Regions from separate parts of the Homo sapiens genome. Here all the other regions are linked to region 6. A link means that fine-mapping ties the variant in region 6 to the expression of a gene that starts in the linked region. Tissue or cell type: whole blood. Region 6 holds a variant in brackets; each other region holds the start of a gene. Each region is shown on its reference strand, or each on the opposite one.

The links. PIP is the estimated chance that this variant, and not a neighbour inherited with it, causes the effect. A credible set is the group of variants that fine-mapping cannot tell apart.
Region 1: it holds the start of BCKDK, and the variant in region 6 is fine-mapped to the expression of BCKDK in whole blood (TOPMed, PIP 0.99).
Region 2: PHF24 starts here. The variant in region 6 is the best candidate, but not a certain one, in a credible set for the expression of PHF24 in whole blood (TOPMed, PIP 0.90).
Region 3: it holds the start of CRACDL, and the variant in region 6 is fine-mapped to the expression of CRACDL in whole blood (TOPMed, PIP 0.98).
Region 4: it holds the start of GPBAR1, and the variant in region 6 is fine-mapped to the expression of GPBAR1 in whole blood (TOPMed, PIP 0.95).
Region 5: CA4 starts here. The variant in region 6 is fine-mapped to the expression of CA4 in whole blood (TOPMed, PIP above 0.99).
Region 7: TMEM123 starts here. The variant in region 6 is fine-mapped to the expression of TMEM123 in whole blood (TOPMed, PIP 0.97).

Annotation. Positions count from the first base shown.
Region 1 is chr16:31,106,343-31,110,413 of GRCh38, reverse strand. It overlaps BCKDK (branched chain keto acid dehydrogenase kinase), which reads right to left and starts at 2,028. Exons shown (of 12, transcript NM_005881.4): 1 at 1,935-2,028; 2 at 996-1,367; 3 at 835-903; 4 at 631-741; 5 at 290-337; 6 at 90-209; 7 at 1-13. The coding sequence starts at 1,190. RefSeq lists enhancers at 518-1,410, 1,411-2,304, 3,912-4,071 and a silencer at 1,636-2,175.
Region 2 is chr9:34,956,446-34,960,521 of GRCh38, reverse strand. PHF24 (PHD finger protein 24) reads right to left here and starts at 2,237. Exons shown (of 8, transcript NM_015297.3): 1 at 2,121-2,237. RefSeq lists a silencer at 2,110-2,189 and an enhancer at 3,539-3,678.
Region 3 is chr2:98,934,201-98,938,276 of GRCh38, reverse strand. CRACDL (CRACD like) reads left to right here and starts at 2,052. Exons shown (of 10, transcript NM_207362.3): 1 at 2,052-2,339. RefSeq lists a silencer at 2,685-2,885.
Region 4 is chr2:218,259,023-218,263,098 of GRCh38, reverse strand. GPBAR1 (G protein-coupled bile acid receptor 1) reads right to left here and starts at 2,084. Exons shown (of 2, transcript NM_170699.3): 1 at 1,883-2,084; 2 at 1-419. The coding sequence starts at 374. RefSeq lists an enhancer at 832-1,637.
Region 5 is chr17:60,148,306-60,152,381 of GRCh38, reverse strand. CA4 (carbonic anhydrase 4) reads right to left here and starts at 2,409. Exons shown (of 8, transcript NM_000717.5): 1 at 2,290-2,409. The coding sequence starts at 2,347.
Region 6 is chr7:50,340,629-50,344,628 of GRCh38, reverse strand. All of the region lies in intron 3 of IKZF1 (IKAROS family zinc finger 1), which reads right to left. Among named protein-coding and RNA genes, the nearest start is that of IKZF1, 38 kb to the right of the region's middle. The variant T/C (reference allele first, on the strand shown) is at 2,014.
Region 7 is chr11:102,450,259-102,454,334 of GRCh38, reverse strand. TMEM123 (transmembrane protein 123) reads left to right here and starts at 1,570. Exons shown (of 5, transcript NM_052932.3): 1 at 1,570-1,811. The coding sequence starts at 1,712. TMEM123-DT (TMEM123 divergent transcript) reads right to left here and starts at 1,416. Exons shown (of 2, transcript NR_135053.1): 1 at 1,286-1,416. RefSeq lists enhancers at 1,207-1,316, 2,047-2,336, 2,517-2,566 and a silencer at 1,437-1,726.

The DNA.
Region 1 (4,071 bases), not on the chromosome of region 6:
CGAGCTTTTCATCCTGTAAAGAGTGAGGTCTCAGAATCCCGTGCCCTTCCCACCCCCAGCAGGCCCGGCCTCTCCTTTGCTGCCCCAACCTCTATGTGCTTCCGGCTCTCACGTAGGCCCTCTGCCAAGAGGGTCACCACATCCTTGTGGTCATCCAGCAGCTGTCGCACCAGCTGGCAGTACTGGGCCTCGTCCGCCTGGTCCTTGATCTGCAGGTCACAGAGTCATGAGGAAGGGTGGTCCAAGCCCAACCTCTCAGCCCCTCACCCTGCTCTGGCCCAGCACTCACCGGAGGGAAGTCTGTCAGCTTCTGGAAGGCACGGATATATAGCTCATGCTGCAAGGAAGAGGTGTGGGAATTCACAAAGCCGCATGGGCACTGAGCAGAGAACAGCCACCCCCACCTACCCATGGGGATCACCACCCAGCTGGTCGACCACGTGATCAAACCCCCACTTCGACCCTTCCAGGCTCCGTGAATACACACCTTTGGCTTCTGAAGGCCTGGGGTTGAATCCTGTGTGGCCCTGACACCTTTAGGCAAGCAATCGTCTGCCACTCTGGGCCCCAGACTCCCCACTTGCCCCCGGGGCAGGGTGGCCCGCTGACCTAAGGTCCTCTCTACCTTACCACGTGCAGTATGGTGGGGTTGCAGCCAATGATGAAAGGAAGGCAGCGGAAGCCCTTGATGCGGTGAGCAATCCTCACTGGAAGTTCTTGCTGCAGGTACCGAGCACTTTTCTGGGAGAAAATGAGAAGGGAAGGCGGGGCTGGAGCCTGAGTGTCTGGGAGAGCTCCAGGATCCACGAGGAAAATAGAGGGCGTGAATCTTACCAGAAGGTGGCTGCCGTCCTGAGAGCGGCCAGCGTAGAGCATCATGGTGGGCGTTAGGCGGACTGAGGGCTAGAGAGGGAGAGAGGCCTTGAGCAGAGAACCCCCAACACTCTCCCTCCCGCCTACATCCCGGACCCTGGGCTGGCTGCCCCCTTGCGCACCTTCTCCGCTGCCGCGTCGATGGCCGACTGGTTGTAAAAGGAGGTGACGGTCTTGGAGCGCTCCCGAGCCATCTCCACGTGGTGTGTGTCGGTGGCCGACGTCGAGCGGGCCCGGAGCGCGAGTGCGGGTCCCAGGAGGGGCCGGAGCGGAAGCCCGCCCCCGGGACCGCTCCTCAGCACCGACGCCAGGATCATCGTCTTGCTCCTTTCAGACCCGGTGGCCGCTAGGACTGAGGATCCGCTAGGACTGAGGACCCAGGCGACCCAAAATGGGGCAAGGGGGTGTGGGTGGGTAGGGGCTCTTCTCCGACTTCAGGGACCAGGGTGCGTCGAGGATGCTGACAGGCTCAGCCCGCGGAGAGCAGCTCCCATCTACCGGGGCGGGGAAGAGGAAGTTGTAAGGATCCGAATCCACAGAACCCGCACCATCTCTCCACCTGTGCATCGGTCTCCCCAGACCCGGGCGACCTCTCCCCACCACTCCCACCGTCTCCCCAGATGCACACAGGCCGCGCCCAAAGGACCTAGCCTCCCGGGGGCTTCTATTCCCCAACCCGAGGCTCTACTGGCGGTGGGAGGGCTGTCGGGGGAGGAGCCCCTCAGACCCTTCCAGCCCGAAAACCTCGCCCCAGCGCCCCGGGGTCCCGGGTACCCTTCTCAGGGGGCGGGGCTGCCCCTGCCTGCCCAGCGCCTTCAAACCCGGGCCCTGGGAGCGCGGCCAGCGAACGTGCGACACCAGCCCTGGGCCCCTGGGGCCGGCTTGGGAGGGTGCGGCACGGAGTCCCCAGCGGGACCCCCCACGCGGGTCACTTGGTTCGGCCCGGATGCCCCCCATATGGTAGATGCCAGCCCCGTCTGCGCGCCCGCGCTGTGATGGAGGCTGCGGACGTGCGCCGCGGGGCCTCCGCGGACTGAGTAGGCTGGGGTCGCCCCACTTACCGCGGGGCCGGAGCCAGGGCCCGGGTCCCAGCGGAAGGGCTCGAACAGTCCACTCGCCAGGCGCCCAGCCGCCTGCGCCCTCCGCCGCCGTGACGTCGCGTGGGCGGCAGCGCCCGCTGGGTCCTGGGAGTTGTAGTTTGGTCTGAGGACGTGCCGTCCCGGGCGCCCGCGCATCCAGGCCACGCCCTTGCTCCCGGACCCCAAACAGCACCGCTTCCTCCACACGGCTCTCGAGGCTCTCCGTGTCCCTCCCAGCCTCTATCTCCTGCTCTATGAAACGGGCTCCCTGGGAGCTGGAAGATCTTAGATGTAAAGCGCACAGATCACGCCCTACCTGACTCCTTCTCGGAGCTCTTGTCCTCCTTCCAGTTCTTGGTTCATTTATGGGTAACCAGGCTTCAAACCCCAGCTCGACCCCTTAATATCTGGAGCAAGTTATTTAACTGCTCAGTGCTTGGTAAGATGAAGAGATATCATCAGTTTTGGGGTTGTGTGGATTACATGAATTTATATGAGTGCCTAGAACAGTGCCAGGCGTGGAATTAGCACTATATAAGGGTTAGGCATTATTATTATTCACTCATGCCTGCAGATAATGCAAGTCGCTGACTGGGTGTCTTTTCTGCACCAGGAGAGGAGATTGGGCAGTGAGTTGAATAGATCTTTCCGTGCCCTGCATAAGAAAACAGTTTCAGTATCATTGGCTGTGATGAGGACTTTCAGAGGAGGCTGCGGGAGCCTCAGATAGAAACTGAGACAGCTGTGTAGGTGCAGCCTGAGTAGGACTTGCAAGGGAGCGGGGTGGGAAGGGTGTGTGGCAGGACAGACAACAGCCCAGATGGTCTGAGGATATGGCTGGAGCCATATGGGATCTGGGAAGGAGAGGGGCGGCAGCAGAGAGCGAAGGATAAGTCTGCATTTGTCCTAGGGTAGTTAGGAACTACTGAAGGGTTTTAACTGGTGGGCTCTCCTCCTTAGACAGAACCCCTTGTCTGCAGTGATTTAGAGTGGGGCGTTTGGTGAGACCAAAGGCAGAGAAACCAATAAGAAGACAATTACTTTAGGCCAGGCGCAGTGGCTCAGGCCTGTAATCCCAGCACTTTGAGAGGACGAGGTGGGCGGATCTCAGGAGTTCCAGACCAGCCTGGCCAACTTGGCAAAACCCCGTCTCTACTAAAAATACAAAAATCAGCCGGGTGTTGTGGCTGGCGCCTGTAATCCCAGCTACTCGCGAGGCTGAGGCAGGAGAATCGCTCGAACCCGGGAGGAGGAGGTTGCAGTGAGCCGATATCCCGCCACTGCTCTCCATCCTGGGCAACAAGAGCAAAACTCCGTTGCAAAAAAAAAAAAAATTATCCAGGCAGGAGGCGCTGGAAGGGACACGTTTCAGTGTGTGCACGTGCATATGTGTGTAGTGTGTATTTGTACTAATTGCAATTTTCTTTACCATGGTTATATATTTCCTAAATATGTTCAATAAAAAGTGCTAAGTGAAGCAAGTGACATCTTTGGAGGCTATCTTTATTTATTTATTTGGAGATGGGGTCTCGCTCTGTTGCTCAAGCTGTAATACAGTCGCTCCATAGTAGCTCACTGCAGCCTCCGACTTAAATGATCCTCCCACCTCAGCCTCTCAAGTAGCCGAGACTGTAAGTGTGCACCACTACCCCCAGGGTGATTTTTTCCCCCTCAGGCAATCCTTTTGCCACAGCCTCCCAAAGTGCTGGGATTACAGACGTAACCCACCGTGCCTGGCCTATTTTTCTTAGAGCCGGGGTCTCGCTATGTTGCCCAGGCTGGTCTCAAATTCCTGGCCTCAGCCTCCTGAGTTGTTGGGGTTACAGGAGTGAGCCACTGGGCCTGGCGGCTGTCTTTAAACTTGGAGGTTAGCCAGGTGCAGTGGCTCATGCTTGTAATCCCAGCACTTTGGGAGGCCAAGGCGGGCAGATGACCTGAGGTCAGGAGTTCGAGACCAGCCTGGCCAATATGGTGAAACTCTGTCTTTACTAAAAATACAAAAATTAGCCGGATGTGGTGGCATGCACCTGTAATCCCTGCTACTCGGGAGGCTGAGGCAGAAGAATCGCTTGAACCCGGGAGGCGGAGGTTGCAGTGAGCCAAGATCGTGCCAATGCAC
Region 2 (4,076 bases), not on the chromosome of region 6:
AGCTGATCAGATGGGTTTGAACTGAAAGGGGGATTATAAACAACTTTACAATGGGGAGGTCCTAACCAACAAAAACCTTTGTCGGGCTTTACTCCACTGAGTTGCGCGCAAGGTAGCATCACTGAGTTAAAAGAAAAAAAATCTAACAACTGGTAAACTATGTTGTTCTGTTTTCCCACTAGCTTGGTCTCTCTCCTCACTATGTAATTCCAGGAGCCAAAGGAAGCCACTTCTGTTCAAGGAGGATTTAACTAGGTTTGACTGTGTGGAAGAAAGCAGGGAAGGGGAGCAGGAAAACCCTTCCAGAATGGCTCTAATGAATATCATTGCTTGGCCCTCTCACCACTCCGTTTTTGGACAAGAAACCAGAATCCATCCTTGGAGCTCAAAGTTGAACTCTTGGGATTCAGCTAGAATGAAAACAACGAGGGGGCGAGATGAGGAGGCAACACTATGTCTGGCGCAGACCCTTTGCGCTCCCCCTAACAGACTCCCAGTGAGCCTTCCTTGGCTCTGCACCTTTCCTGTCCTCCTCCTCCTCATGCAGAGGCACTCTTGGGCAAAAGTGTCCTGAGTGCTATCTGTGGACCATTGTCCACCGGTGCATGTAGTCAGAGGGTCACAAGGACAGTGTGGATCGTGCTTCCTAAAAGTGATCCTGTCTCTCCTTTCTCTCCTTCGAGTATTCGGTAGCAGGTAGGGTGGTCTTGGGACACTCCATCCGCAGAAGGGTCCCCCTAGATCCCCAGAGAAAGCCCTGTCAAAAACCACACCCAGAGGCCTCAATTAGGTCCAGAGCCACCCCAAGGCATCATGACAGTGGGACTGCCAGTGAAGGAAGCCACACCCTGAAATCTGGGGATTCTGTGGAAATCAGTTCCTGCAGCAATCTCATGGCCAGTTAAACTGTCCTCATCCACTTATTTAATCATCACATTTACTGAGCTTGTACCACTGCAAAACCCTATGCTCGGCAGGCACCTTAATGCAACTTATTAACAAATATCTATTCTTTCTTCTGCTGCTCCTTAGTACTTTTTCCCAAATAAAATTTGAAAAACATTTTATGATTATGTTTTTCATCAGCTTTGTGACCTTGGGCAAATTGCTAAACCTCTCTGAGTCTCAATGTTTAAAAGGGGATAATTTCACAAAGCTGTTGTAAGAGTTATATGAGATGTTTAAACATACCTAGTATACTGCCTAGCGTACTGGTGCTCAACAATCCCATACATCCTTTATTCCTTCCTTCAAAGGCCTTTCCCTCCAGGACCTGCCAAAGTCAGTTATTCCACCTGATCTTACTGCTTCCTTCCGCACGGTCAAACCTAGGGGCTCAAATCTCCTATCTTTGCTTTAGAGGCCTCACTGGTCCTCATCCTCGGCTTAGGGCCCTGTGCTCTCGCAGCAGTTTCTGTCTCCACTAAAATGCAGCGTGGAGCAACTGGGCTACCATGGAGAAGAAAAATCCGAATGGGGAAAGAGGAGGAATGGAAAGAGGCTGCAGCCCTAGAAGGCCCCCACCTCTGGGCCACGGTGTGGGGATACAAGTAAGGGCACATGGAACCCTACAGGGATCCCGGTGGAGGCCAAAGTCCTTGGAGCCGTGGGAAGTCACTCATGGATCCCATGGGAGGATCCCCCTCCCCAGTCAGAGGTTGCTTCCCACAGTTCTAGGGCACAGTCTCAGGTCCTCCTTTTCTAGGGAGCCCTCTGGGGGCTCCACCACCTCGAGGTTCCTGCGGCTCCCCTATGTTCCCAGGTGGTCTTCCATTGAGCCAGCTCCAGAGACCACCCTTGTGCCTGCTCCCACAGTGACACAGAAGGGCTCTCTGGGGCCAGTCCCCTCCACGCTGGGGCTCCCTATGGCAGCAAATGCAGACAGCGCCGCGGGAGTCCATTCCCACAGGGGGTCTTTATGGGGGCGGCTCCCCACAGCACCTCAGGGACTCCCCCAAGGCGTAGAGGCAGCAGCTACTTGGGGTTCATCCAATGACACAGGGGGGCCACCTTGGAGGCGGCTCCCACACAAGCACCTCAGAGTCCCGGAGGACTGTCCGCGGCCGCAGACCCGCCCCTCAGGTGACGGCCCGGTCCCCGCCGCCCCCGCCCCCGCTTACCGGGACCGTCCGGGTGCGGGACGCGGCTCCGGGGCGGCGGACTCTACACACCGCGGGCCCCGCGCAGCCCACGGCAGCCCGAGAGCCGGCGTGCTGGGCCGAGCGCCGGCAGCAGGCGGCGCGGGCGGAGCGGCAGGCTGAGGAGGCGGCGGCGGCGGCGGCGGCGGCGGCGGCGCGCGCGGCCGGAGCACACCCACCCGCCCCGGGGGGCTGCGGCGTGTGCACCCGCGCGAGGTGCCCTGGGCCGGCCGGTGGGCGCGCCCCGCCCCGCCCAGTCCTCTTGCGCCTCCAGGAGACGCCCTCGCGGCTCCGCGGGCGGCGGGTGACCGGCGACGGGCGCGCGGGCGTGGGGCGCCGTGGGAATGCGGGAGGACGGCGGACGGCTCCGATGAGCAGACGGCCCAGGTGCCCGTGGGCGCCCCCCACGAGCGCCCGGCACTGCGGCGCGGGGACTGCGCCAGCGGCCGACTGCGGCAAGGACAGTGCCCGCCCGGAGGAGGCGGCCCGGAGGGGGCGCCTTGGGGGCGCTGGGGCCGCTCACCGCTCGCGTTCCGCGCCGGGGGTTGGGTGGGGGGAAGGCGGGGTCCGGGTGGATGCCGCCACCAGCACGTGCCCGGGGTGGGGAGAATGACTCATCCAGCAGGGCCTACCAGCCGTCCCCCGCAGGGCTCCGGGCTCACGACCCCTGGCACTGGGGCACTCACCTTTGCAGTACCCCACTGGCCTCCGGAGGGTCCCAACGAACCTTCACATAATCCTCGGCTGGCCCAGCCTACCCTATGCGCTGTTTTCTGGGATTATTGGTTTTTCATCTCCAGCAGCGAGGCTGTGCTGTCGTGTAACCCACTTTTTGCTGCAGCAACCTCATCCCTCACAATATCCAAACAGCTAGCTTGTCAGAAGGCCAGCAATTCTGAGGGCTATAATGTGCATTACACCAAACTACATGCTTTGAAGAGGGCAAGAAAAAGATAAAATCGTAAGATAGCCAGCAACTAATTATAAGGAAAAATTGAAGATATGCAAATGATATGTCGAGAGCCCTTTAATTTATATTAATTGCACTTACATTTTTAAAATACCTTTATTTTCTTGTGCATTCAATTTATTTACCTCAAATATAATGCATGTCATTTTTTTGAGCGTCTAGTATTTGTTACATACTGTGCTAGGTACCCTGGTGCGATATAAAAAAGAAATTTTGCCCTTAACATGGAATTTACCAATAGAGGATATAAGGCAAGTATGGTATATTTCTATCACTTTAAAACACGAAGTGCCAGGTACTATTCTAAATGGTTTAAATATGTTGTCATTAATTTTCACACCATCCCTTTGAGGGAGTCTACTGTTAGTTTCGACATTTTGCCAGTGATGAAACTGAGGCAAAGAGAGGTTAAACAACTCGCCCAAGGTCACATGGCTAATATGTGATGGAGGTGAGACTGAAATTCAGGTATTCTGATTTCATACCGCAAGCTCCTATTTCTCAGTCCTGCCACTGAGAAAGGAGAGGCTATAAACCATTAATATATGGAGTTCTAAAATTAGTACTTATTAGTTCTAAAATTAGTGCTTATTTCTCAAGAGACACTATGGTTATTTTGCTTGTTGTGAAACTAGCACTAAAAAGCAGACTGAGCCTTCCATATAGTCTGGGGGTCCCCCCCTAACTTTCTTTAGAATTACATCATACCGACAGTTTCACAGATAGACTTCTCTGAACTGTTTTTAGTAAGTGTTTTATTTCTAGGCTGTCTGATGGGCTTATATGGAAAAGGAGGTTGTAACATCATCATATAAATCTCTGTCGGTTAATTCCTTCCTTCATTCAAAAAAATTTATATTGTGGCCAGGCGTGGTGGCTCACGCCTGTAATTCCAGCACTTTGGGAGGCCGAGGCAGGTGAGTCACCTGAGGTCGAGACCAGCCTGGCCAACATAGTGAAACCCCACC
Region 3 (4,076 bases), not on the chromosome of region 6:
GACAAATCCTTACTTGAACATTTTAGTCTTTTCTTAACCTGGCTTCAAGGCTTGATCCAAAAGGCATTAAGGAGGGGAAGAGCCTCCTTGACTGCCAGCCACTTGGCAGGGCCCTGGGAACCAGAGCTCTCACAGGAAGATGAAAGTCCCAGGGGTAGGGGAGGGGCACAGTTTCTTTCCACATTTTTAAAGCATGAAGGTGCTTGCTCTACCAGGCTCCAGATAATTTTCCATTTTCCCAACCTATTCACAAAATTCCCCACCAGTTTCTATTTTGAGTGTTGACACCATGTTCTCGGCCTTAACTAATCACCAGGAACCTCGGTTTTTGTCTTCTGAAAACCTCCAGGAACTTCAAAAGCCACCCACAGAATACAAATAAAGCCAGAGGTTTAAGATATTCTGGAAACGAAATTCTTAGGTAGAAAGGCAGTTTATGGAGTCCATAAATATTTAGTAGTTACAGCGGCAAAAACTAACATGATTTTGAAGAGCAAGGAGCAGAGGCTCAAGGTGGGAGAGGAGAGAGGGGAGTATAGTTTTTGCAGTTGTTCAGTTTAGTTTGAGGATTTTGAAAAAAACAAACACACAGACACCCAACAAACTCGTTGTCTCTGATTGTCATGAGTCACCCATTCATTGTGAATGCAGGTTATTAATTTGGGGGGGGGTTATAAGGCTGAATCACTATTTTTGTTCTTTTTATACAGGGAACTTAAAGCACTTAACCATCAAAAGAGGCTTTTACGTGAATAGCTTGTGGCCAAGGGATAACATTAAAAATTCAAAAAGGAAACTTCGTTTGATATGCCCAAGTAAATGGGAAACTGTCTTGGGCCTCGTTTCGCTCGATTCTTCTATCTGGGATTTTGAGCCCCTTGAAAGCCACAGGTGGAGAGAGCTCCTTCCGGGGTCCAGGCCCTCTCGGCCTCCGACAGCCGAGCAGCTCGGCTTTTCCAGGCCTCCAGTGTGCGCGGCGCTAGCCGTCGGACCCAGCGTCCCGCGGAGTAGCGCGGATTCCGCGTGATCCCCTCCAAACAATGCGGACCTCGCCGCTCATTCTGGCGTCCGGTGACACCCGAGACTCCCCGTCTGACGTTAGTATCATCTCTTCCAGCCTGGGTTGAAGGCGTCCCCTGAGGACTCGTCGCAGCCTGGGCTCCCTGCTGGGACGCGACTCCCGCGCCTCTCGCCTGCCTGGCCCTGGGCGTGCACCGCCGGGGAAGAGGCCGGGACGGGGTCGCCGGGCTGTGCCATCCGCAGACCAAAGCCGCGGCTCGGGCTCCGGAGGAGATTCGCTGGGCGACCACCCAAGGCAGCTCCCTCCGTGCGCGGTCTCCCTAAATGGACCAGCCCTGTCTTTACAAGAAAAAGGATTTTAAAAAAAGAAGAAAGAAAGAAAATAAAGAAAGGCGAGCGCAGCTGAGACGGCATCAGCTGCCTTTCTTCCCACACTCGCCGGTGTCACACCCATGAATCACCTCCAGACGGGGCGGCAGCTTCCCTAATTAGCCTGGAGACGCTCAGGACCCACAGGGTTATAAAACAACAACAATAACAAACTTTTACTTTTATTCAAATGCACACTTCCTTCCCTCGGCGCCCACGCCCGCCGCAGGCCACTGACTTAGAGGGCGGATCCGGAGGTCACCTGGAGTCCCGGGTCCCTCTCACCGACGCGCGCGGGTGCCCTGGGCCAGTCCCGGACTGACTTGCCACCACCTCCGGGTCTCCGGTGCCCCCCGGCCCTCCCGGAGCCCCGACAGCGCCGCTGCGCGGACAGGCCGAGGCGGGTCGGGAGCGGCGCGGGCTTGGGAGGGAGCGCTGGGCAGCCGGGCCCGCACCCCGATTGCCCTCCCCGCACCCCGATCGCCCTCCCGCCTCCCGCGGGGCGTCCAAGGCCCAGGCCGGCGCCTGCGCCCCCCGCCCCGAGGTCTCGGCCCCACTCCGCCGGGCCAGCTGCGGAGGCGGCGTTGGGAGCTGTGCGCCGCGGGGGAGGTGCGCGCGGCGGCCGGCGAGGGGAGCTGAGCGGCGTCCGCCCCCGCCGAGCCGAGCGGAGCCGAGCGAAGCCGGCGCGCCTGCAGCTGGGAGCTGGGAGCTGGGAGCGCGCCGGGCGCAGGGCCGGGCCGGCCGCGGGAGGGTAGTGTCAGCGCCCGCGTCCAGCTCTTCGGCCGCAGACCCGGGCTGTCTGGAGGCCGCGCGGCCACCTGCTGCGTCGCCCCGGCTTTGGGCTGGGGCTAGACGCGCACCGCGGCGGGAGCAGCCCCGGCTCGCCGCACCCCGCGGAAGGTGCCCTTCTCTGCGCGTCTCGCCGAGCCCGGGCCACGCTCCTGTCCCAGGTACCTCGAGGGGTTTGAAATCGCGTGTCCCAAGGCAGGCGTGGGTCGAAGGCGGGGTGGGCGCGGGGGCACCGGGCGGAGGTGGGGCGGGCCGGGGCTAGGGGGTCGAGGGCAGAGGCCGTGAAGCCAGGGGCCCCTCGGACCCGGAGAGGCGCCACCCCCGCCGCCGAAGCCCTGGGCAGCTCCTGCGGCCGAGGGGGAGCCGGACGCGCTCGTGCAAGTGCCCAAAGTTTCCCTTTGCTCACTTTGCTGGACCCAACTTTCCACTGTGAGGCAAATCCAGCAGTTTACGCGCCAGGAAAATGAAAGAGGAGGGAGAGAAGGTCCTGCTCGGTTGAAATTGCTAGCATACGAGGTCTTTATGCCCACTGTCTCCACACGCAGTTGCAGGGGAAAGGAGTGGACACATTCACGAACTGCCTTATGCTTTAGGTGATGGTTTATTTAACAGGTTTTAGGCTTTGATTACACGCCACCCGGGAGGGATTCTGGAGTTGATCTAAGAAGTGTTCACATTTTTAATCAACAAATATTTGTTGAACAGAAGCTTCATCATAGGCAAAGATTCGGTATGAAGTTCACATGTGATCAGAGCATAATAGTCACTTGCTTTTGAAATGCAAGTCAGAAGCAGTGCGGCTGTGTGAATTTGACTCCGTGTAGGTGCAAACCGCCTGCAGGCATCAGGTCCTGTTGACAGTTTTGAGCCAGGAAATCCAAGTGGAAGACAGGCAGCTGTGTTACCCTTTTAGAGCCAGCTCACACCTTCCCAAACTGGTCTTAAGGTATCCTACTAGGTTATTGGAGCCTGCAGGCTTCCTTCATTTGCATATACCATAGACTAGAATCTGTGTAGACCCCTGGTATTTTCCCTGGAGCTCGGTCCCACGGGCGCACACCTGGAATGATGGAGCACTGTGGTCATCCTAAGAACCTATTGAGGTTATAAAATTGTGAGGAGAAAGATATCTAGAGACAGTGTCGTGTGGAGCTGGTGGAGAAGGTTGAGCTGGGCTGGTTTCTGGGCTCTGCCCCTATGCTGTGCCATCTTGGAGTCTGAGGCAACAGGAAAAATCAGGAACACTGATCCTGTCTTTATTTAAAAATGTGAGATTTTGTACATTAGGGATTTTTGTATTTGTTTTGATGTTTTAAAATATTGTAATAAGGCATTTATCTGACTGCATTTTTGGTACCCCCTTAAATTTTGTGCCTGTAGTGAGTACCTGGCTTGCCTGAGTCTGATTCTGGACCTCCTCCACGAGTCAAGTTCTTACTCTCTAAGCATCTGTTTCCTCACTTATAAAATAAAGTGTACCATCCATGGATGCTGCGCAGCTCAGCTGCTGCATAGGATGCGTCATGTGGGGCTCACTAACGGGTGGCTGTCCTGCTGAGATCACTGCTCTGCTTGGCCCTCTTAGGCTAGTTAAGATGAATCTTGGCTGGGCGCGATGGCTCACACTTGTAATCCCAGCACTTTGGGAGGCCGAGGCAGGTGGATTGCCTGAGGTCAGGAGTTCGTGACCAGTCTGGCCAACGTGGTGAAGCCCTGACTCTACTAAAAATACAAAACAAAAATAGCCAGGTGTGGCGCCTGTAATCCAGCTACTCGGGAGGCCGAGGCAGGGGAATTGCTTGAACCAGGGACGTAGAGGTTGCAGTGAGCTGAGATGGCACCACTGCACTCCAGCCTGGGCAGCAGAGTGAGGCTCAGTCTCAAAAAAAAAAAAAAAA
Region 4 (4,076 bases), not on the chromosome of region 6:
CGAATGCTCCCAGGGGGCTGGAGTGGCCTCAGGACTGCCATGTAGCGCTCCCCGTGCACCAGCAAGAGGTTGGCAAGCAGGGAGAGGAAGGAGAAGTTGGGAGCCAAGTAGACGAGGAGGCAGGACCAGTAACCCCGGCGACTCTGGTTCCACAGCCCTGGCAATGTGGGCAATGCCAGACCCGTGAGCAGCCCAGCCAGCAGTAGGCTCAGGAAGAAGCAGCCAGCAGGTGGGCTGCGCAGGCGGCGGTCCCAGGCGATGCCCAGGGCTAGGAGCAGGTTCGCGGTGATGATGAGGCTTGCCAGGGCCAGGGAGAGCCCCAAAGCCCCCTTGGGAATGGGGCTGGGCACCTCGCCAGTGCTGTTGGGCGTCATCTTGGTCCTGGGGACAGGGGAGTCCTGGAGCGGCAGCCGGCATGCCTGCAGGATGGGGTGGCCAGAGTTAGGATGGGGCTGCAGGTCGTGTCCTCCTGGCAGGGCAGCATGTTAATCCAGGGGCGCAGACCCGCAGGCTGTGGGCTGTATCATGTTCGCTGATACACAGAATTTTTCAATTAATTGCCAATTAAACATTTATATAAAAAACTATCTTTGGTTTCTATTGAAAATTCAGGTCTGGCAACACATATGTCCTGTGTGGTAGCAACCAGCCGGAGCTCACTGCTGGCTGCCCTTCGGACAGTCCCCACCCAGCCAGCTTTATCCATTTCTGGTATCTGCCTTTTCTGGGCAGCTGTGTTGAGGTCTCTTGTTTAGACTGAAAGGCGGGCCCATCCAGCCCCAAAGCATTTTGTGTATCCCTGCCTCCACCGGGGAGGCCTCTAAATGAGAGAATGGACCAGGGCTGGCTGGTGTGTAGTGGTCTTCCAGCCAGCCATTAGGTGACAGGCTCCAGCGGGCCAGGTCTCGGGCACCCTGCACCCTTCCCCCCATCTGTCCTTGTAGCCATCACAGCTCAGTGAGCAGCCTCCGGGTAGGACTTCCAGCCCATAAACTTGACTCGTCTTTGCTCCACACTAGCAACAGGGTCCTTCCTGGGAGCTGGAGGGAGGAGAGAAGCAGCTGGAGGGCACGTGTGGCAGTGAACGTGGAGATGCCAGCAGCAAGGAGAGGGACTCCCCCACACCCCCAGGCCTGAGGCTGAGCCCAGAGGAGAGGGAAGAGGAGTCTGGGCAGAGTCTGGCTTCTCTGTGGCTCTCATCTGTCCCTGTCCTTCCCGTCATTCCCTGGTCTCAGTCCTCCAGTGTCATGGCTCTGCTGCCACATCCTGGGGACAGGGGGAGGGGTCCTGGGTCCTGTGGGAACTCCTGCTTCTGTCAACAGGGGAGCAGCTGCTGTTGCTAGGATCCAAGTCAATAAGGAAAGGATTCATACCTCTCCCCTCCTCCAGGACAGGGGATCAGGGCCCCATGGCTGCCCTGAGCTGAGAGGAAGGAAGATGCTCCCCTTCCTTCCCAGGTTCCCCCAGCACCCTGAGCCTGGGCCTCCAAGGCCTTATGCCCCCTTTCCCCTCCCCTAAGCATGTTTTCTCTTTCTCAATCTCTTCCAGTGCCCTCCACCCAGGATGTCTTTTCCTCTCTAGAGGCCTTGCAGTTTCTGTTCCCTTTCCCAGGGCATCATCAACTCTCTTAAGTCCCGTGAGACTCAGGGTCCATTACCCCAAACCTGGCCTGAGCTGGAGCTCCCAGCCCTAATCGGAATGATTCCCCCCAACCCACCTCCACTAGAACAGCGACAAAGGCAGGGAGCAGCCCCCAGGGGTGATTTCCCAGCAGGGTGCAGGCTGTACCACCTGCACACCCCCGAGGGTCTGGTGGCTTGGGCTGGGTGTAGTAGCCTCTCCAGGATCTGGGGTTTGGGGGTTTGGGGGAGTAGCTACTCACATGGCTGTTGGGAGCAGGTATTGCCTGCCCAGCCTGGGCCTTCCTGAGTGTCAGGGAGTTGCTGCAGCCAGCCCTGCAGCGGTTTGGACCATGTCTGGTGTCCTGGCTGAAGAGCACAAGTGGACCAAGTGCATGGTGTCTCCACCCAGTGGGGACAGCGGGGCCAGGCTCTCCTACCCAGGCTCTGCCCGTCTGGGTTCTCAGAGGGATAGAGAAATGAGGCTGGCAGGACTCAGCCCTGGCCCCGCCTCTGGGAGGGTGGGACCTGACATATTCCAAACTGCAGCAACTGGGAGGCCTGCCTCCCCCTCCCACCCAGTTCCCCTCTCCCCCTGCCACCTAGGTGGCAGTTTCCCTACTCCAGCTCGGAGTAATCTGAGAAATGCATTCCAGTTAATGAATAATAATGATTGACTTACCCCTCCCGACTTCCCGCCTCAGCTGATGCATTTACATTTAAGCCCCTGGACTGGCCAGCCAGCTGACAGCACACCAGGCTCCCTCCACACTTCCGTGTGTGATGGTGGCAGTGGCAGGTGTTTGGGGCCTGAGGATCTTCACTCCCCCATCCCATCACCTGATGGGCCTTTCAGTTTCTAAGGCCAGACTTGCCTTCCTGAATCTGGGGTCATTCCACACTTTTCTCAACTGCTTTCTGAGTCAAGTTCTGAACTATGAGGGACAAATGGCTCTGGGGATGTGACCATGGGTAAGGTACTACTGGGCCTCGGTTTTTGCCTGTGTTAAAATGGGAACAAGAAAAACCACCTCTAATTAAGGTCGTGGTGGGGAATATCACAGGATAACACATATGGCGGCATATACCCCAGTGCATGGCCCTTGATGGGTGGGGGTTTGCCCCAACAAATGGCTCCCTCTCTTTCCTCCCCCATGATGAAGAGGCATGAGCTGGCGCTGGAATCAGAGCTGTCTGGATCCTTTTTTAAAAAAGCCAGTGAACTTGGGCAAATGACTAAAGTTCCCTTGCCTTAGTTTCCTCATCTGTCAAATGGGGCCCATAGTTGTACTCACCTATCGTGAGACTAAATGAAGTCCCGTGTGATGAGGACTCAGATCAACACTTGGCCCTTCAGCACTCCGCGACAGGCAGCGATCGCTGGGAACATTATTAGGATTTCTGCCTTTCTCTGCACCTGGCCCCTCTAAGACAGATCTGCTGAGAGGGGCGCATGGGGAGCTTGGGAAAAGCAAGAGGGGAGTGACACTCTTGCTGCACAGGGAAGCTGAGGAAACCAGATACATTGAGAGGGAAGGGCAAGTTCAAGGCTGGGAAGCCAGAAGTGGTGCTTTGATTTCCACCTTGTATCAAGTGCGGCTTTGGAGTGAGGGGGAGGAGAGAAGCCCAGCCACACTCCCTTAAGGCCTGAAATGGGAGGGAACAGGCGGAAATTGCAGCAGGAAAGCTGGGACTGGGGGTGAGACATTAGGAAACACTTGCTGGCTGAAGAGCGCAAGTAAATGGAGCAAAGGGACTCTGGTGCTCTCCGGGAGAGCTGGGCCTGAAGGGCTGGAAGCCCGTGGAGTGTGGCTGTGCCAGCTCTGCACAGCCAGTCAGGGATCCTGGAGATCAGGGACTTCTGTTGGGACAAAAAGTGGGAAGAGGAAAGCATCCAGCCTCAAGTCCATCCTCGAGGGAGCTGGTGGGTCGGAAGGACGCAGGGTTCCAGGGCCGGTCCTCAGAACCACGGGATCTGGTCGGGCAGAAGTCACAGGCTCTGGGAGAGTTCAGCCTGGGGCCTGGACAGAAGTGGGTGTGGGACCCTTCTGATATGTGACTTCCAGGAATAAACAGACCTCCTGTTCCCAGCCCCAGCCTGCTCCCTGTGGGATCCAGGATGTCTGTTTCTTCTCTGCTGCTCTGTCTAAACACTGTGTGTGGGATGTGTGTGAAGGGGGACAGATTAGGTAGTGGCAGCCAGGGAGCCTGGGCTGTCTCCTGCTCAGCCTCATTTCTCCCTTCCTAGATCATCTAGTTCCTGTCTGTTCCATCAAGCCCTGGGGCTGACTCACCCCCTAGCTTCTCCCTTCAGCCACGGAGGGCTCTGGTGCAAGCCGTCTTCAGACGCTCCATCCAGCTGACTGTGCCCGGACCCCATTCTCCTTTCCTCAGGCAGAGCCTGAATGGGGGTGACCAATTCAGACTCTGGCATGGAATCCTCCTGTGCCTCCTTTG
Region 5 (4,076 bases), not on the chromosome of region 6:
AGGAAAACATAATGGTGGTGAGGTCAAGGCCAGGGGTCAGGTCCATGTCGGTGGATGAGGGTGGGGTGCTGGTGGCAGGAGCACCCACCACTCAGGTTCCTGTCTTCGTTGAATGAGAGGGCCACCCTTGCAGGTAAGTACCAGCCCACTGACTCAGGCCACTCCCAAGAGGGCTTGGGAAGGAGAGGGGCTACCTACCCAGAGGTCTCGGTGTCCAGCGCCACATCCTACCTAGTCCATCCACCCTGACCAGAGGTTAGAGACCGAAAGTCAGTCGCCTGTCACCCAGCTACTGCCCCCCACACTGACTGACCTGCCACCCCTCCCCCTTATTTCAAGATGGCTGAAGAAGCCTCTCTAATGGACCTTGCTCACCCCACCTCCCCCTCTGAGGGACAGGGGATAATCCTGAAAAACAGCTCAGCACAACCCAAGTGTTTCCTGGGCAAAGTCTCAGTCGCTCCCGGCCAGGGGTCTGGGGCTCTGAAGGGGACCAAATATCCTCACCCGGCCTCTTGTCTCAATGGACAGAGATGCTCTGGGGGTCGCCATATGCAACCTGGTCCCTTCTCAGCTTGAGTCCTCCATAAGATGAATGGAAGGCAGGTCCCAGTCAGAAAGCCTTGGCACTAAAGGGGATAGCAGCTTGTGTGAGGGGTGAGCTGAGACACATTCCTGACACTGGCCCCAGGCTTGGGGGAGAGCCCCATAAACTTGGTATATGACACACCAGCCACGTGCCACACAGGCACCGCACTAATCACTTAAACCCATTATCTTATTCAAACGCTTAAAACCCCTGAAGTCAGAATGACAACACCTGTTTTGCAAATGGGACAGGAAGTGACTTACCCAAGACCACACAGCTACAAAGCACCAGAACTGCAAAGCATTTCTCTTTCTACTTTCTAGCTGCTTAGTAGGTTTCCAATGTCCAACCCTACAAATAAAAGTTTCCACATTCTGCTTTTTCTCTTTCTTCTCCCAGGGGCCCGGTGGAGAGGCTGCAAGGTGCCCCTCGACCCTCTAAGACAGCTCAGCCAGTCCCTGCTGCAAAGGGCACACGCTGGCTCCTCTCTGTGCAGAGGACACCTTCACCCCTCACTCCGCCGCTTTGAGGATGGAGCACCTAACTTGGGAGAGGAGGTTTCAGCCTGCGTGGACCCCAAGAACCATCCGAGGGGTGGTTGGGCTGAGAACTGGCAGAGGGGGTCTTCCGGTGATGGGGTCTGGGGTTGCAAAGAAGGTGCCTCCAGGATCGGATCCCTGTGCCCAGCCGCTTGAAGCGCCTTTAGCTTCTTATCAAATATTAACATGCCTTTCCTGCCACCTCCCACCTAGAGGAATAATTAAGAGCTCGGCTTCACCATTAATCTTTAAACGAAAATCACCCTGTCCGGAAAGACCGGCTCCGCAGAGGCCTTGGGGCTCCGGGTCCCCCACCCCCCGCCCCCGCCAGGCTCCCAATTCAGCGCTGGAGGTTAGGGAGGCCAGGGGAGCTTGCGACCCTCAGGGGCAAGGAACCCGTGTGGGAAGCGCGGCTTCCAGGACCCTGCCAGACCGCCCTTGCTCTGGCCGCGGGGCAGTCACCCAGCGCTGAGTCCCAGCGGGACGGACGGAAACCCACGGGCAGACGGAGGAGGCTGGGTGAGAAAAGAAGGCGTGCGTTGAGGCGGGTCCGAGAAGCATCCTTTTTTTTTTTTTTTTTTTTTTTTTTTTTTTTTTTTAAACGGAGCACCAGGCTGGAGTGCAGTGGCGTGATCTCACTGCAACCTCCACCTCCTGGGTTCAAGCGATTCTCGGGCCTCAGCCTCCCGAGTAGCTGGGATTACAGGCGTGTGCCACCACGTCCGGCTAATGTTTGTATTTTTGGTAGAGATGGGATTTCACCATGTTGGCCATGCTGGTCTCGAACTCCTGGGCTCAGGTGATCCACCCGCCTCTGCCTCCCAACGTGCTGGCATTTCAGGCTGGAGCACCCGCGCCCGGCCTGAGACGCATCCTTATCAGGGACTCCCAACTCGTCTCGCCGGGCCACGCGCACACACCCTCACCGCGCACACCCGTGCACACGCTCCCCCAGCCGGTGCTGACACGCGTGTGCACACACAAGCTCGCGCGCTGCCCAGTCCTCCCGCACCCTCGCGGCCCCCGGCGCACACGCAACCCGGGACCCCAGCGCCACCGACGCTCACCGGTCGCCCGCGGGGGGATCCTCTGCAGGGGCGGGAGCTGGGGGCACGGAGGGGACCGCCGAGGGGCACCTGGGGCCGGAGCCCGGGAGCTCACCTGCACTGGCCGATGGCCGCGCCGCGGAGAGGGCCAGGAGCGCCAGCAGCATCCGCATCTTGCGGGACAGCAAAGAGTCCTCTGAGCCGGGGGTCGCGCACCGAGGAGGCCGCCGCGGGTGCAGCGATCCTGCCGGCCTGGGTTTTATAGCGGAGCCGCGACGGGAGGGAGCCCCGACAGCTGGACGCGGGAGGCGGCTCCTCCCCCTGGCGGGGCCTGCCCTCCCCTCTCCACCTTCCCCTGTCCCTCATCTGAAATCCTCCGCTCTCCCCGGTCCCCCGCCCTGCCTGGCCACCTCTTGCCCTGTGCGCAAGGCCCCCTCACCCACTCCGCGTCCTCTCCACTCAGCAGCGGCGCCCTGCCCCTCCCCCATCCTACTCCTGGTCCCTGGTTTGGGAACAGGGACACGACACCACAAAGTGCTTGACCCACACAAAGATGAGTGCCCCATGATGACTTTGATCATTCTGGCGCCACCCCTGCGCAGTGGTCTTGAATGGGACCTTGGAATGGCCTTGGGGTGGGGGTGGGGGTGGGGGTGGAGATGGCCTCGAAGAGATGAGAGGCTGAGGGGCGTGTGATGCCGTTTGTTGAATCAGTGGCCGCAGAAAGGCTCTCCTATCTCTCTTTGGCAGTGGCCATTGATTCTCTGGGTCTCATCTCTTCTATTTCCTCCCAGGCTGCTCCAAACTTAATTTCTAAGCAGACCAAAGACCTTTCTTCGAATACAGAGCAAAGCTGTCCCTAAACTACTGCCCTTGCTGGTGTTTATGTGATGACCAGGGAGGGTTGATGGGGCAGAATTAAGAAATGGATTGTAAGAGGATTCGGTGAGGGAGAAGCTGATGGGGTCAAAGGGGAGGAGCTAGGTTCTTTGAGCCCCCCAGGTGGAGAGATGAGATGGGAAGAGAAGAGACTGGGGTCTGAATGGACCCCTGGTTCTCCCATCTGGCAAGACCTCCAGAGGAGTCCAGGGGAAGTTCCCTTAAGGGCGGCTCCAACATTTGGGGAAATGGGGTCCCCCCCATGCCCCCAAGCTGCCTCTTGTCTCCTCTCTTAGCTGTGCCCTCCTGCTACTGCAGGTCCTCTGTGTCCCACATGGGGTGGGGGCTTCTGTGGGAGTTTGGGAAGCTCAGGCTGGGGTGCGGGAGAGGGACGGGGAACCAGGCAGTGGACCTGGACCTCCTCCATCAATCCATCAACAGGAAGCCCCCTTTTTCTGGTTTAGCCACTCCCCATCCGCTGCCAACCTCTCAGTCCCTACCGACCTTCGAACCTGGGCTAGGGACTTCTGAAGGGGGATTGCCTCCCCCAGAAGGATTCAGGCAAAGATGCTTCCTCCTTGCTTAGGGTTGAGGCTGACTCCCCGCTCCTGGCCCAGGATCACACAGCCTCACAGAGCAGCTTTGATCCTACAGAGAGGCAGGAGGGAGGTGAGGGGGTGTCCATGCCAGGCTTAGGGCTCTATTGTCAACACCACTGTATAATGTAATCACCAGCCTGCGACCATGACAGCCACAGGAGGGATTCCACACCCAGAGCCTATTCTGGGGAGTGCATTTGTGTTCACAGGGCTATAAAAATGTCCCTTTCAGGACTGAGGAAGCCTGTTCCTGGGAATAAAAACCACCCCCAGGGAGTCCCTGTGACCTCTGGCCAGCCCCCTGATGAGCAGGGGAGAGGCTTGGGAAACTTTGGTGGGGTTAAGGGACTGTTGATCAATGATCCACTTTAAAGTTCATTGCATTCAGGCCCCCCAGGAGAGAGGGGGGCCCTGGGTGCATTTT
Region 6 (4,000 bases):
CATGAGGTACAAAATAACGGGAGTATAACAGCTTATACATGATTGTACTTTTAGCACTGATGCAGAGGAGTGGAATAATTCTAGATGTGCTCAGATGAACTTAGGCAAATAGTTTGGAAGTTGTAAAATGTGTTTCCCAAAGCACAAAAAATAGAGAGGCAAAATGTGGATGACTTGCCCTGTGGGTTGGGGATGTGTGAAGAGAAGGAACCTGGCTTAGAAACACTGCTGATTGACTTCATAAAGGAGTCATTGGAAGGGACAAAGAAGTAAAGGAAGACAACATCAGCGGATGTGGCCTGGGTCATCTACATGTGAGGACAGTCACACACTAGACACAAGGCAAAAGGTGTGTCTTTTCTGACCTGGTCATGCAGATTAATGAGTTTTTGAAATACCACTTTACATGTCATATACTTAGGAAAAAATATGATTTCATTCAATGTATTTTGCAGATGAAGAAAGAGGAGGTAGGCCTGCCCCACACATCCCGATTCTGGTAAGGCAGAGAACTGAAGCTTAAACCCAGGACTTCTGCTTCAAAATCTTTTACAACAAGCTGGGCTCACCTTCTGGAGGATTTTTTGGGGGTTTGGGGAAAAAGAGGTGGGTAAATTTATAAGTCAGCTCAGAAAGCAATTCTCACGACTTCACAATTAAGCCTTATTTGTGAACAAAAAAACAGCATTCCTCAGGTTAAGTTAGCACTTTATTCAAAGGTCTAGGCTCTAAAAGGATTTTGGACTATTTCTAAAAGGAAAATAAAACCCAGACTCAAATATACAAAAGCAAGTGCTTGGGTCTCTGAAGGTAATCAAAACAGGGAGATGCAAAATAAATGTGAGTGATGAAAAAAATGCGGATTCTCAACGTTAGGTCTTCCAGGCATGTGTGCTGGTGCATTAGGCCTTCAGCCCATCACTGCTGCACTGTATTACACTCTAGGTACACTCAGTTAAAGACATGAAATGACCATAGCTAGAGACAGTAACATTGTAACCACAGCGTGTCTTCTCCTGGCACAAGCCTCTTGTACAAAGAAGTAGTTCTCCTTGTCCACAAATCTCAAACCAGGAAATCCCTAATTCATTTAATGATCAGGAAAATGCAAGAGATTTGTGTAGTTGTGACTCTTCCAGTTACTCCCCGCTGTACCATTATTTTAGGTTACCTATCACACAGGATGGTGTGCCTGATGGCACTGGCAGTCATTTCTCTATGTCTTGTAGAAAAGTTTACTCCTGGGAAAAACAATTTGGTCACTAGTCCTTGGACCTAAGTAACAGAATCTTGATGAAATGGTACCCATGATCAAATGTTAAAAGGAAGAAAGGGATGGAGAAAAGAAGAGAGGAAGGAAGGAAGGAGGAAAGGGAAAGAAAAAGGAGGAAGGGAGGGAGGGAGGGGAGGGGAAGGGAGACGAGGGGAAGGGAGACGAGGGGAAGGGAGGGAGGGTGGGGAGGGAAGGAGGGAAGAAAGAAAGGAAGGAAGAAAGAAAGGGAGGGAGGGAGGAAAGAAAAAAAGAGGAAAGAAGGAAGGAAAGAAAGGAGAAAGAGAAAGGAGGAAAATTAAAAAGAAAAAGGAAGAAAGGAAGGAAGGAAGAAGAAAGACAGGAAGGAAGGAAAAAGGAGGAAAGAAACAAAAGGGCAAGCAAACAAGAAAGGTCAAAAGACAGTAACGGCCCAATCAAAGCTTCCATGACGAATCTGTGCCTTTTTGGATCATGGTGTACTCAGGAAATGCAGCCGCCACAGGAGCACACGCTGTCTCCTGAACTGCAGGAAGAGCAGCGGTTAGCAGCAGGAGGTGTCCCTTTCACAGGAAGGCTGGGGTCTGGGCTGCACACTGCGGAGCAGATTCACATGCCAGGGTGGCCCCGCTTGGGCTATGAGGACATGGGTGCCAAGGTGGAACTGCTTTCTCAGGCTGCAGGCAGGCAGCTTGCTGCTTCTCTTTCTCTCTTTGAAAAAAAAAAAAAAAAGCCTTTCCTTCACCACCTCTCCTCGGTTGCTT[T/C]ATCAGGTTGCAAAAGCATCTTTTAGGAAGTATCAAGGGGCATCACTCTCCACAATTTTTGCAAAACAATTCCATAGTTGTGATGGTGTCTGTCTTTGCAGCTTAGTTTACTTACAGCCTGTCCTCAAGGGCGCTCTCTGGGAACCTGCCTCATGTCTATAAAGCAGCTACCTCATTTCAAAAATTTAAAGAGGACTTCCCAACTTAAAAAAGTTACCATAGAGTACATGGGAATACAATGAAGGGATGAAGACAAAAATTAAATGTCATGTTTTTCTACATTTAATTCAGCTACTTAGCTTTGAAAAACTGATTTGTTTGACATGTTCACATGTTGTTGTATTCTCGTTACTTTGTACTTAACCAAAATGCCTACAAGTACAAGACCTGTACTTAAAACACAGCTACATAAAATAAACCCAATTGATGTTAAAATTGGACTGGACCTAGATTTTCTTTACATCAAATGTGGGCAAAAAATGAAAGACTTAAAAAGCAGATGTTCACATACATTTGTGACAACACTGAGAAAATGTTTTGAAAAGCAAATTGATTTAAAAACTACTTTTAGAGAGTTGATAAATGACTAGTCTTTGGCTAACATTCAACAAGGGTTAATCTAAAAAGTTTTTTTTTTTTCCACAATATAATGACACACAGTTCTTTGGAGCTCTCAAGATCTGCCTGCCTGTCCAATAGGTAACCCCTAGCTGCATGTGACTCCTGAGCACTTGAAATGTGACCAACCCAAATTGAAATGTGTGGTGAAGATAAAAAAAAAATACATCCGGGGTTTCAAACACATAGTTCAAAAAGAGTAAAATATTTCATTAACAATTGCTTATATTGAGTACATACTTAAATAATATTTAAGCATACTGAATTAAGAAAATATATTCAAATTAATTTCACCTGTGTCATTTTTCTTTTTTAATGTGACTACTAAAAATGGACCAGCAAATATGCAGGTCAAATTATGTTCCCCTTGGACAGTGCTACGCTGGAATTTCTGATTTCTATATTTCACAAATAATGTTCCACAGATGCTAGTTATCATCCATCTGTAAAACCTCTGTCCCTCAAACAATGACTGTTCAACGTTGTTGCGTCTCATAAGGCATAAAGCTGGGCTAGGACTGTCTGCCTATGTCCTGATTAGAAAGACTCCATACAGCCTGGATACGGTGCCTCACATCTGTAATCCCAGCACTTTGGGAGGCTGAGGCAGGTGGATTACCTGAAGTCAGGAGTTCGAGACCAGCCTGGTCAACGTGGTGAAACCCCATCTCTATTAAAAATGCAAAAAATCAGCTGGGCATGGTGGCGGGCGTGTAATCCCAGCTGCTTGGGAGGCTGGGACAGGAGAATCACTTGAACCCAAGAGGTGGAGGCTGCAGTGAGCCAAGATCACACCACTGCACTCCAGCCTGGGCTGCAGAGTGAAACTCTGTCTAAAAAAAAAAAAAAAAAGACTCCATACCCAACATTTAAAATATGTGTGCAGGCACAGGGCAAGCAGATTTTAAGGGTATATTTTTAGGAGACTCCATCAATAATAAAACATGGTTATTGAAATGGGAAAAATTAACTAACACATATAAAACCTTAACAGAAATTTTTACACTTAAAGCTACAAAGTCAAATATAAAAATCAGTGTTGAGACCATATATAAGTAGCAATAATGCTTTAAAACTGCGAGTAAATGCAGCCTTTACAGTGACAAAAACAACTCCATTGTCATCTCAGGATGAAAGTCACTTCACTTAGATCACAGCATTCTCTACAGAACAATAATTTCACTAAGGATTACTTGCACCATAACACTAAGATTAAGTAAGGGTGGCTACACCTGGTAATAGTTAATTGTCACTAAACATTATGGACAGAGTAGAAATGCTTGGGGGGCACTGGCAGATTCTTAATTTTATTGCCACCAAGTTCAACTGGAGAGCACAGAGATATTGCAAAAGCAGTCAAAATTCTGCC
Region 7 (4,076 bases), not on the chromosome of region 6:
GAGGATTAGGTTTCAACACATGAATGTGGTGGGGATATAAACATCCAGACCTCTTATTCCACCCCAGATTCCCAGGCTATAAGTACACTGAGCCTTAAAGGAAGTATTAGCTGTGGGTTGGTGAAGAGAATTCCAGAAGGAAAGAACAACGTATGCAAATGCCAGGAACCAGAAAGCACCCTTCTCCATGGGCAACAGAACCAAGGCTGGAAAGACAGGTTGGGCCTAGATTGGGAAATGCTTGGATAATGGGGTAGTCACCAGAACGGTTTATTCCTAAACCAGATTCCCCAGTTAAATAGAATAACCAAAATCGAAATGTGCAATGCTTGCTTTTTGTCCATGATAAGCTGCAGGGGAAACATTTGCAGGTTGGCTGACTGAATCCACAGATGGAAGTCTCTGTAAATTTAGGACAGATTGTCTCAGTTAATCTCTAGGACCAGTCAGACCTCTGTAATGATGGATTTGCCTGACATGAGAAAGTTCTACCTCTCATAACACAGTTTTCAAAAGTTAACTGCAATGTGGCCTTTATGTGATGAAATCTGGCTCAGGTGCCAAAGATCTGCAACATTAAGACCTTTGCAGGTGGGGATTCACTGTGATTTTAGGTTCCTTGGATCCTTCAGTCTTCTACTTCAGCTGAGGGTTCCCACCCAAGCCAGGACTCAGCCTTTGTTATTCTCATGCATTAGCCACAGGTAGCTATGTCACTTCAGAGTTCTGAGCACGATGAAAATGCAGACTTTACAAGCACTTCAAGTCAAGACAAGTGATTAGCATTGGCTCCAAGGGTTTAAAAGGAACTCAGCCAAAAACTGTTCAAAACTGGCCATTTCATCTGAACTGGGACAGCAGGGCACAAGGAGAGAAAAGGCTGGTTGGATTAATGCAGCCCCCGCTTTCCATGGCTCTACTGTATTTCACTGAGAGTTGCTACCAACTCCTGCGCGCGCCCCCACCCGCCCACTCCACTAATCTCGTGTCTTAATCAGAGATACAGGGAACCCGTGGAGAAGATGAAGTACAACTGGGATAAGAAGATCGTAGGTGTTTTACGTTTGAATTTAAGCAACAAATCTGTCGAGCTGTTTTTCTCCACTTCCCCCTTAGGCTGGGTCACGCGAGGGGAAAGCTCCGACCGCCCAGGACTCCTTAGAGTGAATCCCATCCCCTCAAGTTCCTCTCCAGAATCTCCCCCTCCTCCCGCCTTTGCCCTGCAACTCCTCCCTCTCACTCTGAGTCGCACGCACCCCTGTCCCCTCCCTGCCCGCAAAACTACTCTTCAAAGGCTTCCTTCCGGGCACCGCGAAGCCAGCGTGCTCAGCATTCAGGGAGGCAGCGGCGCTCGCCTTCATCCAGGACAACAAAACTGCCATTTCCGAAGAGAAAGGAAACGGCTCGCGGTTTCTGGGGTTCCCAAGCGCGCGCCTGCGAGGGAGGCCGCGAGCCGAGTCGCCACGCCCAGAACCCCGAGCCCGCCCCCGCGCCACCCAGCCCGGCCCCGCCGCCCCGGCTGCGCACGCGACGCCCCCTCCAGGCCCCGCTCCTGCGCCCTATTTGGTCATTCGGGGGGCAAGCGGCGGGAGGGGAAACGTGCGCGGCCGAAGGGGAAGCGGAGCCGGCGCCGGCTGCGCAGAGGAGCCGCTCTCGCCGCCGCCACCTCGGCTGGGAGCCCACGAGGCTGCCGCATCCTGCCCTCGGAACAATGGGACTCGGCGCGCGAGGTGCTTGGGCCGCGCTGCTCCTGGGGACGCTGCAGGTGCTAGCGCTGCTGGGGGCCGCCCATGAAAGCGCAGCCATGGCGGGTAAGTGGCTGCGGGGGTCGTCAGCCCCGTTCGTGGGAGGCAGCGCGCTGCCGAGGCTTGGGTTCCCAAGTTGGGCTCTGGTACAGAAAGTTCCGCGTGTGTCTGGCCGAACGCTCGGGGCGGACCCAGAGGTGACCGGGCGGGGTGGGGGAAACTGAGGTTTGGACCAGTCACCCGCTGGCCCCGGGGCCGCCTGCTGAGGAAATTGCCTGGTGCTTCCCCTCTCGCTTTTTGGATGCGGCGGTCGCAGGCCGGGACGGGTGCGCATAACCTGTTGAGTTACCGCAAGTTGGTTTTTACAGCCTTTCCCTGAAGTTAATGTTTGCCGAGGTTAGAGTTTCTAAGGCTTCCGTTTGTAAACAAGATTAGCTGAGTTGAAAAATATGTCTACCTAGGCCCGCGGAAACGTCTCCCAGTTAGTCGGGGAGCTTTTCAAGCGTCCCCCAGGCATTTCAGCGTCTAATATTATGCAGTATTATCCAGATGAATTACAATCTTTAGGTCCCCCTGACGCTCGAAGTTAGACTTCGGGGCTCTTGGAGCTAGTTGGGAGCTTTTGGGGAGCGCGCCCCGCCCTCGCGGTAGTTGAGGCGGCCGCCCCCATGGCGGGGCGCTCTCCACCCCTCGTGTGCCATAAACACCCGGCCGAGGCGCGCGGCAGCTGCGCAGCGTTAAGGGCACAGCTGCACGGTCGCCGGTGGCCCTTGTCGTCGCTAGTAAGGTCGTAACAGGATGATGTTGACTTTGCTTTTCTGTGTAGGGCGGAATTTGTTTCGTTTTAGGCCCTTGGCCCTTTGGAGACTTCAAACAGCCCTTTTTGGATGAAACCAGGAAGTTGGGATTTGTTGTGTAAATACTGTTTTCCTTTGTCAACTGTTAGAGAAGTCAGGTCCCTAGGTAATGGTCAGTAAACTAGGATAAGTTAAGTAACCCAAGGTTTTCATGGTTTTAAGTTCTATCCATCCACTGTATATGTTAGCCTTAGGTTCGTTTTATCCAGCAAAAGAAAAAGGCAGTTTGTAAATCTGGAAGGTTCAGGCACAACACTTGCTTTTTCTGGAATAACCTGGGTGAATTAACAATTTTTCTTTGTTTTGCTGAAGTTTTTTTGTTTGCTTAATTGTGCGTGTGACAAACTGGCTTCGCAGACCTAATTTTGAGATCATTTAAGAAAAAAAGTGGTAAAATCATGTCCATCGTGTATCTTGGTCCTAATTTTATACCAATTATCTCATGAGGTGAGGTCTCCATTTTTAAAAATTTGTTGCTGTGTTTGTGAAGATAAGCCTTACTGTTTCAATGAATTACCGATTAGAGAAACTGTGAGTGACCATGCTTTTCTTTCTTTTGCCCTGATAACACAGATTTTTTTTGCCCTATTTTAGCACTGTTTGTTCTGTTTATTACTTAATGTCTTACTAGAGGTTAGTCCCATTTGCAAAACTTGAAATGCTCTACAGTAGGCGAGCCCTGAATTCATAAACTAGTATAACCAACCAGAGGTGGAATCTGTTTCTACAGACTATATAATGTCACCTTGCAACTAGACTAAAAGGTATACAATAGAAGATTTCTCAAAAAAGCTAGTAACTGTTAATCGTAGTCTTCATGTATAGTGTAATCTGTATACAATGTCATTACGAAGTATAGTGATTTTTAGCCATCATACTAAAACTCTTAATGGCTGATTTTTACTGGGTACATATTCTGTGCATCCCACGCTATGCTAATTTAGGTCCATAAATCATCCCATTGAATCCTCACAGTATCGTCCCCATTTTATAGATAAGTAAGCTAATTTATGGCAAGTAAAACAATTAATACATGTTTGGTTTCAGATCAAAATCCAAATTTTCAATTAACCATTTCACCACTAAGCCGCGTTAGATGATGATGGCTCTTGAAGTAGATAATACTTTTATTCCACAGTATTACCATTGCCTAGAATATTGTGGGAGAAGATAAAAACATTATTGAAATTCTGCTTTTAAAATATTCTTCACAGTCAGCTGCATAGCTTTATAAATATCAGTTGAAGGAGGAGGGAGACTATGAGCAAGTTTGCAAATCAGCAAACAGGATTTATTGTAGTATTCCAATGAATGACATTAACATTAACAGGATGGGAGGGGCGGCTGTTAGTCATTACTCTTAGTGGCAAGTGACAGAAACCCACCTTGAACAACTGTGGAAAGAAGGGACTTTTTTGACTTGTAACTGAAAAGTGCAAGGATTGAGGTGGCTTGAAAATGGCTGTATTCAAGT